Linked DNA regions of Homo sapiens. The protein of the gene in region 2 purifies or fractionates together with the protein of the main gene of each other region. This does not show direct contact. Each region holds a gene or a part of one and is shown on either strand. Other genes may lie near its edges.

Region 1 (3,653 bases), on a different chromosome or scaffold from region 2:
CCATCTGCTCCTCTGAGCAATTCTCCCCTGTCTCTTGCATCATCAGTTTTAGCTTTCTACTGGATCATTCCTAAAACATACGTAGTCTGTATTTGCATTCACTAGCTTCTCTTTTCCCCTTCTTTCTTGAGCTGACTCCATTCAGACGTATTATGCCAGTACTTCAGAATTGTTCTTGTCAAGGTCACTAGTTATCTCTACATCACTACATTTAAGGAATCATTTTCATTTCTCATCTTGACTCTCAGTAGCACTTGACCTAATTCATTACTTTCTCCTTCTTACAGACAGCACTTTCTTCAGTTGGCCTCCGAGATACCATACTAGCCTAGATTCCATCTTACATCTCTGGCCGTCTGTTCTCAGTTTTCTTTGCTGGTTATTCCTCATCTCCCCAACCTAGAAATGTTGGAGTGCCCAGGGCCTGCTCATTTGGCTTCTTCACTTATCTGTCTGCACTCATTTCCTTGGTAACCTCATTCATTATTATGGCCTTATATACCATCTGTTGGCTCATAATGTTTTCCATCTTATACCTGAACTCTATACTCATATATCCAACTATTTCCTTTACATCTACTAGAAACTCAAACTTAATATTTTCCAAACTGAGTTCCTGATACTTCCTTCAAACTCACTCTTCCTTTAGTCTTTCCGCATCTCAATTAATAGCCCTCAGTTCTTCTACTAGCTCAGGTTAAAAACCTTAAGTTATTCTTGACTATTAGAAGACTATTTAGGCATCTTGGTTCCTTTTTTGTGCTATCCTTAAGTTTCTCTTAAAATGGGTTTGTTTGGATATCTTCATTAGCTTGAAAAGTCTTATTTTATTTCTGTTCCTGCCTGGCTAGTTTATAAAAGAATGTAAGTTACATAATACCAAGTGAAGCATTTGTATTATTTCCAGCCATTAGTCATAAATGTTTCTGCTTTTCCTAGGCTCATTCATGGACATTGCTTCTACAAATACGAGTAACAAAAGTGACACTAATATGGAGCAAGTTCCTGCCACAAATGATACTATTAAGCGCTTAGAATCAAAATTGTTGAAAAATCAGGCAAAGCAACAGGTTTGTTATGTTATTACAAGTAAAACTGGTAACCTTACCAGTAGTCACAATATTATACTAACTGAAATTAATTATTTACCATCTTCTATTTTATAAATCCTGAATTTTCTTCCTGAAACATGCAAAAGAGCTTACAAATAGAGACACGTAATGAGATTCTCCTACCATTTATTACCAAATGGTTTTTCCTTCTAATGATTGCTACCTTTGCCAATTCTAAATCCCTATCTATAATAATCCCTAAATGTAATGGTTGATGGTTAAAAATGTAAAATGGGTATATTTTGGCTGCGCTGCCCAGTTAGAGGAGTTGTTCTAAGTCTATCATTTCATGCTGTTCAGATTTATTATATTTTTGCCATTGTTGATTTTTAAAAATATTTCAAGGAGTGAGTTTATTCATTTTGCCTGAGGCATTTAGGTTAACGAATAATTGGGGCTTTTAGCTCCCAGTTCTAGTGACTGCCTTTTCATAAAGACAGTATCTGCAGCTTGCTTTCCCTTACCCCTGTAGCTCCCTCTCGTACAAACTTCCCTCTCCTTTCAGAGCAGAACAGGATCTATCAGAATCCCATTTGCCATCTTCCTCCTTTTAGGTTGCCTAAGATTGCTAAATCTAAAGAACTTCAGTAATTCAGATTGACCTGTAATTTTAACAGAGTGAATCTGGACGTTTAAGCTTGGGAGCCTCCCGTGGGAGCAGTGTGGAGAGCTTGCCCCCAACCTCTGAGGGCAAGAGGATGAGTGCTGACATGTCTGAAATAGAAGCTAGGATCGCCGCAACCACAGGTAAAAAGGAACTACAAGTCTGAAGAGTGAAAATGTATATAAGCCTTTTTGGCCATGGTAGTTTCAGTTGTCAAAGGTTTTTTGTGTGTGTCTTATATTTTTTTTTAAATAGGAAGTAGGTTTACAATATATTTTTCTAAGTTACTAGCAATAGTTTATGCATTTATCTCAAATTCCAAATAAGGAAGGTATGACTTGTAAAATTATTTGGATGAGAAAGTATGCCTTCCTCATTTACAGATTTTATCAAATGTAATTCTTTCTGCTCAAACATGAGTTGAAAGTCTAAGTGAGAAATTGAAATTCTGCCAAAACCAGAATATTTTGGGGATTTTCAGTGATACTACTAGATTTTTGTGCTGAACTCAAATAATAGCAAATATTTTGTTTCAAATTTAACAGAAAAATGTATTCCAGATCCATGTATGATTTGACCTTCTATCTGCTTCTTCATTCCAGTGACAAAATAATAGCTAAGCTGGTTGTGGTTAATTTTTTTAATTGTAAAATAAAATATCATAATTTTATTAGATCTTGAAAAAGCTAGCATTTAAATTCCATTGTTCAGTTCTTAAAATTATTAATCATGGAAGAACTGGTCAGCACAAAAACAATTACATGTTTTGTTACTTAAGTAAACTGACAACCTAATTCTGTGACCAGGTTTCATTTTAGTAATGCTGGTTTAATTTGGACGTTTTTGGTTTTTTGCTGATTCTTTCCAGGGATCAGGGGGAGCTGATTTTAAAAGTAAACACGTTTCTGTTGTGGAAAATGTGGAAATGTAAACAAGCCAAAAAAACTTACATAATTACCCCACTCAGAGATAAACACTTAACATTTTTGTGTATTTACCCCATCTTTTAACTATGTATGTGTATAAATGTATATATTCATGTGTATTTGCATCTTTTTTAACTTAGCTAACCAATTTTTTAGGTCTTTTTTTCACTTATTTGGTTTTTTTCTAAATAGAATATTCTCATTGTGTGTGGAGCTCTTTTCAGAAAGAAGTTGTCAAGATGGACCATCATACTATACTTGTCTTCAACTAATCATGATCATTGATTTTATCAGCTACTATTAGAATCCATTAGATATAACAGAATATCCGAAATAACAGTGTCTATAACACATAAGCATTATTTTTCACATATAAACAAGTCTGGAGGTAGTGGGCTCTGTGATCTTGAAGTAACTGGTCTCCTATTTCTGTGCTGTAATCCCTACTGTATAGCTTCCATTCTCAAAGTTATCCTGTGCTCCAAAATGGCTGTTGAAGTTCCATTTCATCACTTCTACATTCCAGGCAATAGGAAGGAAGACATGGGGGCAGGGCAAATAGACATCCAAGTTCTTTGAAGGAACATTCCCAGATGCCTCTCTTAACAACATCCACACATCATTGGTCAAAGTAACATGGTCGAATGGCTACACGTAGCTCCAAGGGAAGAGGAGATCTGCCCTCTTTTATCTGATGACTTTTCTGTCCTAAATAAAATCAGAGTACTATTGCTAAAACAGAAGGGAAGAGTGGAAACTGGCAGAAGATAGCTGTGTCTGCCACAGATGGGTCTTCAGAAACTATCAAGTTGAGTAGAAGTCACCAGCCACTGACAAGCCCATGAGTCTCCATGAGTCACAAGTATTTCTTTGGAGCAGGGTTGTCTCACTGTAGTGTCAGATGAACCCTACTCACCGGGACATACCCTCATGCTTTGAGGAACCCTTTTCACTTCAGGGATGTTGTTCAGGATAGATCTGCCACATACTAATTGCTGTCTCAAAACTGAA
Region 2 (3,653 bases):
TTTAACATCATAGCCACAGAAATCAAGTGCCAGTCTATCTGGAATCCATGTTGTATTGCAGATAATGTTCTCATTTATTTTTGATGTAGAATTTACATTGCCATGGGTGTTAAATAAGCTTTGAGTCAAAAGTCAAGAAAGTGACTGAATATACAGTCACCTTTTATGAAATGAGTCTCTGTGTTACTGGGTGGCATGACTGATTGAGGTGAAGCTCACGGGGCCAGGCTGACCGTCTTGACCGTTCCACTTGAGATAGGTTGGTCATCGTGCAGAAGGCCCCAGGACCTCAGCACACACAGCCTCCTCTTGGTCTGAGTAGGCATCATGTGGGGGCCAGATCTGCCTGCTGTTTCCATGGGTTACATTTACTGTGCTGTATCTCAGATGTTGGTGTCTGGAAGTTTATTCTTAAGAGACTGCTACCCAGCTGGTCTGTATTATTGGAAGTTGCAGTTCGTGCTTTGGTTGGCCTTCTGGTCTAAAGCTGTGTCCTGAATATTAGGGATCACAATTCACTGAAATACAGCAGTGTGTGGAGGTGATGGCCAGTTAATCTGCTGAACTGGTTTTGACTAATGACAAACCTCTTTTTAAGATGGTAGAATGGAGGTGATAGTCACAAAAGTAAATGTTCCATTTTTATGAATGACTTTCTACAGAGTTTCTATTTCTAAAGAAAAAACAATTGTTCACATCCCATCTGATGATTAGCATGTGTGTAATGAATGCTGTCTTGGTCTCCCCTGTGGAAACCCTTCTCCCTGTGCCTTAGAGCAGGTGTGTACATCTCTCACTACCTTTCTCATGGGTGCTGTTAGATTTTGGCACCCGTTTTCTCAGCATTCAGCCCAGGGAATGTGGTTTTCACTTCTTCGTCAGATAAGACCAACATGAAGGGGTATGTTGAGAAACATCCTGAGGCAAGGTGGGAGGTGGGATGGGGCAGGACTTTCCCTTCCAAGCACATGCATGGCAGGTGGGGAAAGGGGGGCTTGCACCCCTGCTGGAAAGAAAAGGTTTGTGTATATTTCTGATGCAAATGTCATACTCACTGCTCTGTAAAGGCAGCTGGCAGCTTTTTGGGAAAAGAACGTGCTCGTCTGTTCTCTGGCATCAAGTTTCTTGCAGCTGCTCTGAGGGAGAGACAGTGAGCTGCAAGACTGCCTCCCCATAACAACAGGCAACTCAGAGAAGAGTCATTTTATGTTGTTCCTATGGAATCTGGAATGAGTGCAGAGCTCCTACCCACACATGACTGCCCCGCCATTTCATCCTAGGCATTCTGTGAAGGAGATTGGTTAGTCCAAACTTGCTAACATACGAAAATTCACTTGGAACATGATGAGAGATTTCTTATTGAGGCCAAGAGATGTTTCCTGTCCCAGAGGAACCATTAGGAGTCGCTTTTAGGGTATTCAGCTTTGTTCATGAAATAAGGCATCTCTGAGAAAGTGGCCCCAGGGAGAGAATGGAGGACTGGGAGGAGAAGCATTAACTGAGCTCCAAGGGTGTGTGGGCAGAGAGCTTGCTATGTGAACTCACTCCTTAAGAAAATGGAAGAGAAAAAGAGAGTGCTAGTTAAAAAATCGGGATGTTTTAGTTTGGATTTAGGGTTTTGATACTTATGTTGAAATACTAATGTTTCTGATCAATAAAATCAAACTCTTAATATACCGAGTAATGAAACCATAGTGTGATTGCCTCAGAATAAATTGAGAAGTCCAACTTCCTAGTTTTGTTTAATTAGTTTCACTTTTTCTACTCTCCCCAGTATGCTAGAAATGGGAATCGTTGCCCTGCAGATTACGGCAAAACATCTGTTTTAAGCAAAGCTGCATTTTTTGACTCAGAAATTGTCCCAGACGGTGGATATAAGATGAAATTCAGAAAAACGTTCTGCCAAGTCACAGGCTTTTAGATATTATGGAAACAAGAAATGGAAAACAGGATGATCTCCATGAGAGGCCTTGATCCTGAGAGTAAAAGGCTTGTGTAGATAGGTTAGACAACGTCCTCTAGAAAAGAGACCAGGGATAAGTCCAGGTTTCCAGGAAAACCAAGAAGCCTGCGGGTAGCTGAAGGTAGAGTGCTAGTTGTTCATCTTAACTTACCAATGAGCTACAGAAAGGACTTAGCATCTGATGTCATCAGCTTTGCCAGGAGAGTGATCAAGGAGGTTAAAGCTCAGGTAAAGGTGTGCCTTCTCAGAGATTGGCTACAAGCAACAGAGACCACCTCAACAGAGACCACCTCAACAGACTCAGCCCAGCCATACAAGGTGCCAAAGCTCCTCCAGAGGGCTGTCTTGGGCCTTTGAGGCAATTGATCTCCAGAAAGAGTCAGAAGTCATTCCAGTCCAGGCCCAGGTATTCAGATGGTGACCCAGCCAGATAATAGTATCTTGAGCAAATAATAGTATCTTGAGTGCAAATAAGCAGGAAGACTGTCCTTCAAAAAATGTGGGGTTACATGATTTTCAGAGCCTTTTTTTCAGAGTTGAGCATCTTTTCTTTTAAAAGAAATAAGGGGCAAGAGGACCAATTTTATTCCTTGAGGAAAAATGACACACCCTTCTCCCAAAAGAAAGAAAACTCTCTGGCCCCCCAACTTCAACACTAATTTGGCTCCCTGAAGAAGAGAGAAAATATTATTTCTGTCTTTATTGAAGAGAAATGGGCAATGCCAATGTGAAGGTTACTAGTCTTTTTTATTTTCTATTGGTGAAGACTACTACTGCTCTTATTTAGCAGATCTTATACCTTCAGTGGTCACCAGTATAGCAGGTGAGGTATAAGGAAAACAGCAGTGTGATGATAAATGGTAATTAATATACTTTGTCTGTGTCAGCAATAGGGAATGGTGGGGACTGTGGCAAACTGAAGCGCCCCTGTTCCACCCACAGTGGGTAATTTTCCAGTCGACTGTGGCCATGAAGTACTTCCTGATCTTCCCATTTTTCAAGAAAAGCTGACAATCTGGATTTTTATATGAAAAATTCTGATTTTAAAAAATATTGGCAACTAAGTTAAAATTCAAGTGAATTTAGACCCAGCAGAAGACATGGATGGACCTGATTTGGTCCACTGACTACCAGTTTGTTAACCTGTGCTTTATAAGATTTGAAGGAAAGGCATTCATGGTAATTACAGACGGTGCCACCAGAAAATGCTCTTGCTAAATGCAGCCAGTAGTTAGATTGCTTCTTTCTCCAGTCTCCCCCGCAAAGAAATTTGACGTGATTCTGAATGCACTGGACATGTCTTGATTGCGTCTTTACATTTCACAGTGTCTTAAAAGAAAGGCAAGCCAGTTGTTAATTTCAGAATCAGATTTATGCTCTCTCAATTTAAAAAATGCTGGGAACAATTTCATTTTTTTTTTTTTGAGATGGAGTCTTGCTCTGTTGCCCAGGCTGGAGTGCAGTGGCGTGATCTCGGCTCACTGCAAGCTCCACCTCCCGGGTTCACGCCATTCTCCTGCCTCAGCCTCCTGAGTAGCTGGGACTACAGGCGCCCACCACCACGCCTGGCTAATTTTTTTGTATTTTTAGTAGAGACGGGGTTTCACTGTGTTAGCCAGGATGATCTCGATCTCCTGACCTGGTGATCCGCTTGCCTCGGCCTCCCAAAGTGCTGGGATTACAGGCGTGA
Region 3 (3,653 bases), on a different chromosome or scaffold from region 2:
ACTACACTAGCAAGTACATATCACTCACAACAATGTCAAGAAGCACATATTCACACTGAGGCAGGTTAGGAGCAGAGCGGTATAAATGAATTTCGCATATGCTCAGTTCTTCTTCCCTAAGAAAATGGTTTAAGTCAACAAAGACAAGCCCTGGGAATTAGAGTGATGATTGTCCTGTTGCTGCCACCTCCTCCATCCTTCAGAACTGATTTAAAGGTGGCTTTTTTAACGGACACTGGGCTGACCCTCTCCAAGGTGAAATAGGTGCTCCTCCCTCCCCTTGGTTTCCACAACTTTCACAGAATAGAGCTGTCTCTTTTTTATTTTTATTTTTTTAATTTTTATTTTTGAGACGGAGTCTTGCTCAGCCACCTAGGCTGGAGTGCAGTGGCACAATCTCGGCTTACTGCAACCACCGTCTCCCGTGTTCAAGGAATTCTCCTGTCTCAGCCTCCCAAGTAGCTGGGATTACAGGCACCTGCCATGACGCCCAATTTAGTAGAGATGGGGTTTCACCATGTTGGCCAGGCTGGTCTTGAACTCCTGACCTCAGATGATTCACCCACCTCGGCCTCCCAAAGTGCTAGGATTACAGGTATAAGCCACTGCACCCAGCCTCTCTTTTTTATTTTTTAAGAGACAGGATCTCACTACGTTGTCCAGGCTGGCCTTGAACCTCTGGGCTCAAGCGATGCTCCCACCTCAGCCTCCGAAGTAGCTGGGACTGCTGGTGCGTGCCACCACTCATGTGCTGCCTTCTAATGGCTTGCCTCCTTGTCACTTTCCTGTATTAGTTGGTGAACCTGGTGCGGGCCAGGAGCTTGTCTTACTCAGCATCGCACTATGATAACCCAGTACACAGTAGGTCAACTCAGTGAAACTGCCTCCCCGCGCTCACTGCCAAAAATCAGCAGAGCCACAGTGAGACCAGGCCATCAGGCCACTGTGTATCCCAGAAGTGTCACGGAAAACCCATCTTCTGCCCCTCAAGGTTAGCACCAGTCAGTTAACAGCCCAGAGAGAAGTCAGGGGCAACTTCCCAGGCTGAAGGTTGCTAATCTTACCCTTCTTGAATCCTAAAGACCAGAGTGCATAGGAAAATGGAGAGTGGTGAGTGGACGGAACAGAGAATGTACACTGGGCAGCTGTTCCTTGGCTGGTGCTTCGGGGACACACTGGGGCCCAGGGTGGGGCTGGGCAGGGAAACTTGGAGAGGATGGGAGGGCCCCAGGCTGCTCTGAGGTGTGAGTCAGAGGGCTGAGCGGCCCAACACCGTCTTCCTGGGAGCACTCAGCTGCCTGTTTGGGAAGGCACACCAGGGCTCAGTGCCTCTTCCGGGGCTGAGATGGAGCCAGGCTACCCCATATGCAAATTCTGGCTCCATGACTTGTGAGCCACATGACCTTAGACAAGTTACCCAACCTTTCAGAGCCGCTGTGTGGTCGTCTGTAAAACGAAGATGCTTGTGATGAGGCTTGAGATACTAACATATAAAGCCACGGCCACCTAGTACACACTCATCCCATGTCCTCTCGCGTCTGACATGTGATGGGCAAAGCCTGTGACCTGCCTCCTACACACATGAGCCCCTTTGATGCTTACAGCAACCTCAAGAGGACCCTGTCCTTCTGTCAGAGCCCCAAGCTATCTGCCTCTCTCACCCTTCCCCTCTGGGCCTCCTGGTGACGGGAGCTGAAGGCCTCCCCCGAGCCCCAGCCCCGCCTAGACCCACCCACTCCATTCCATTCTTCTTTTCCTTGCGTTTGAGACTCCTGATCTCATTGTTAGCAAAAATGGTGGTGTAGGGAAGGCATTGTTCAGAGTTATAAATAAACTCTGGGAACTACTAAGTAATTTATGGCTAAAAGGACTGCTCTGTGCAAAAGATCCTGAGGCCTCCTTAACTGTGGATTCTCCAACTTTTCCACTAATATGGGGAGAGGGAATGTGATCCTGAGCAGAATGGACTGAAAATCTCATATTTTACGTCTTAAAATTATAGAAAATTGTTTCCTATGCCTTCATACATTTCTTTTTTAAAAATTGTGATAAAAGATTCACGGCCAGGCATGGCTGCTCACAGCTGTGGTCTTAGAACTGTGGGAGGCTGAGGAGGGCAGATCACTCAAGCTCAGGAGTTTGAGACCAGCCTGGGTAACATAGTGAGACCCTGTCTCTACAAAAAATACAAATATTAACCAGGTGTGGTGGCACGCTCCTGTACTCCCAGCTACTCAGGAGGCTGAGGCCGAAGGATGGCTTGACCCCGGGAGGTCGAGGCTGCACTGAGCCATGATTGCACCACTGCACTCCAGCCTGGGTGAGAGAGCAAGAGATCCTGTCTCAAAAAAAAAAAGAAAGAAAGAAAGAAAAAGTTTAATGACATAAAATTTACCATTTTAACCATGATAAGTGTACAGTTCAAGGGCATGAAGTATATCCACATTGTTGTAAAACCATCATCACCATCCATCTCCTGAACTTTTTCACCTCCCCAAACTGAAGCTGTCCTCATTAAACAACTCCCCATCCCCCGCTGCACTGGCAACAGCCATTCTACTCTCTATCTTCATCCATGTCTGTTTTAATATTAAAATGTTTCAAATTACTTTTCTTAATCCTAGGATGTAAATGTATTCAATGGTTTAATCTTTTTGAAATTAGCATCGGGCTCGAGTTCAGTGTGTGCTGTTAAGGTAGCTTCCTCCCTCCTCCACTCTGCAAAGCAAAGTTGTTATTAAACTAATGGTGAGCACTTACAACTTCCTACTTTTCACTAATCCTGAGCAAAACAGGCTTCTGGGAAGATGAGCCACGTCTATCCTGTACCTCTGGGCACCCTGGCCCTGGTGCGTTCCTGGGGTTTGTGCGCGCTGCTTCTGCGTGTGTGTCCTGTCCTCCCCACCCTGCCTCAGCACCTGCAGGAGCTTCCGGTCCTTGTCCAGAACTCAGGAAAATTCCAGAGTTCCACAATCATTATATTCCAGATTTTAACTGCCTAGATCTTGAATCTTAGCGTTGGTCTTTTTGCAGGGAAGGGGTTTACCCAGACTATGATATGTTTTCTGCAGATTTACTTATGTTTCAAATGATTGATGCTGTATGCATTTTTTTGTTAAATTCTTTATCTCAGGTTCTGTTTCCAATTTGGATAGTTAAACCCACCTCCCCCCATTGGCAACAAGGAGTTCTAAGCTCATCTGAGGTGAACCTGTCTGATGTGAGGCCCGTTTTACTGGCTTCCTGTTGGCATTTGCTGTGCTCAATCTGTCTGTCTCAGGACAAAATGCTATGTTCATCAGTCTTAAGCGATGGGATTCCATAAGTAAGTAATGGGATGAACTATGTCCCTGCAACAATATGATCCCCGCCCTGCTTGGCTCCTGGCCCTAACTCTAGGCACTCTAGAGACCACCTTTGGTCCCACCTACATTCCTACAGGCCTTCAATTTGCAGATACAACCAGTCTGAGTCGTTTGGTACAGGAGCCTGGGGTGCTTTCTTTGCACAGCCCATTCCCATCTCAACGCCAACACCTCAGGGCCCAGCCCAGGCGCTGAGCAGAAACTGATCCCTACTGAGCTCCTCTTGCCCTCACAGGCTACTGGTGCCCTGGCATATTCCCCCATTCACAGCATATATTATTTGTGGAA

The links.
Region 1: the proteins of IL17RD (region 2) and MAP3K7 purify together in Homo sapiens (affinity purification with western blotting; one study listed by BioGRID). This does not show direct contact.
Region 3: the proteins of IL17RD (region 2) and KLRG2 fractionate together in Homo sapiens (co-fractionation; one large-scale study listed by BioGRID). This does not show direct contact.

What each region holds. Positions count from the first base shown.
Region 1 is NC_000006.12:90,545,464-90,549,116, reverse strand, and holds part of MAP3K7 (mitogen-activated protein kinase kinase kinase 7), read left to right. Parts: intron 1-939; coding exon 940-1,070; intron 1,071-1,729; coding exon 1,730-1,859; intron 1,860-3,653. UniProt on the Homo sapiens protein: Serine/threonine kinase which acts as an essential component of the MAP kinase signal transduction pathway. Plays an important role in the cascades of cellular responses evoked by changes in the environment.
Region 2 is NC_000003.12:57,092,323-57,095,975, reverse strand, and holds part of IL17RD (interleukin-17 receptor D isoform a precursor), read left to right. Parts: 3' UTR 1-3,653. UniProt on the Homo sapiens protein: Feedback inhibitor of fibroblast growth factor mediated Ras-MAPK signaling and ERK activation. Regulates the nuclear ERK signaling pathway by spatially blocking nuclear translocation of activated ERK without inhibiting cytoplasmic phosphorylation of ERK.
Region 3 is NC_000007.14:139,456,035-139,459,687, forward strand, and holds part of KLRG2 (killer cell lectin-like receptor subfamily G member 2), read right to left. Parts: intron 1-3,653.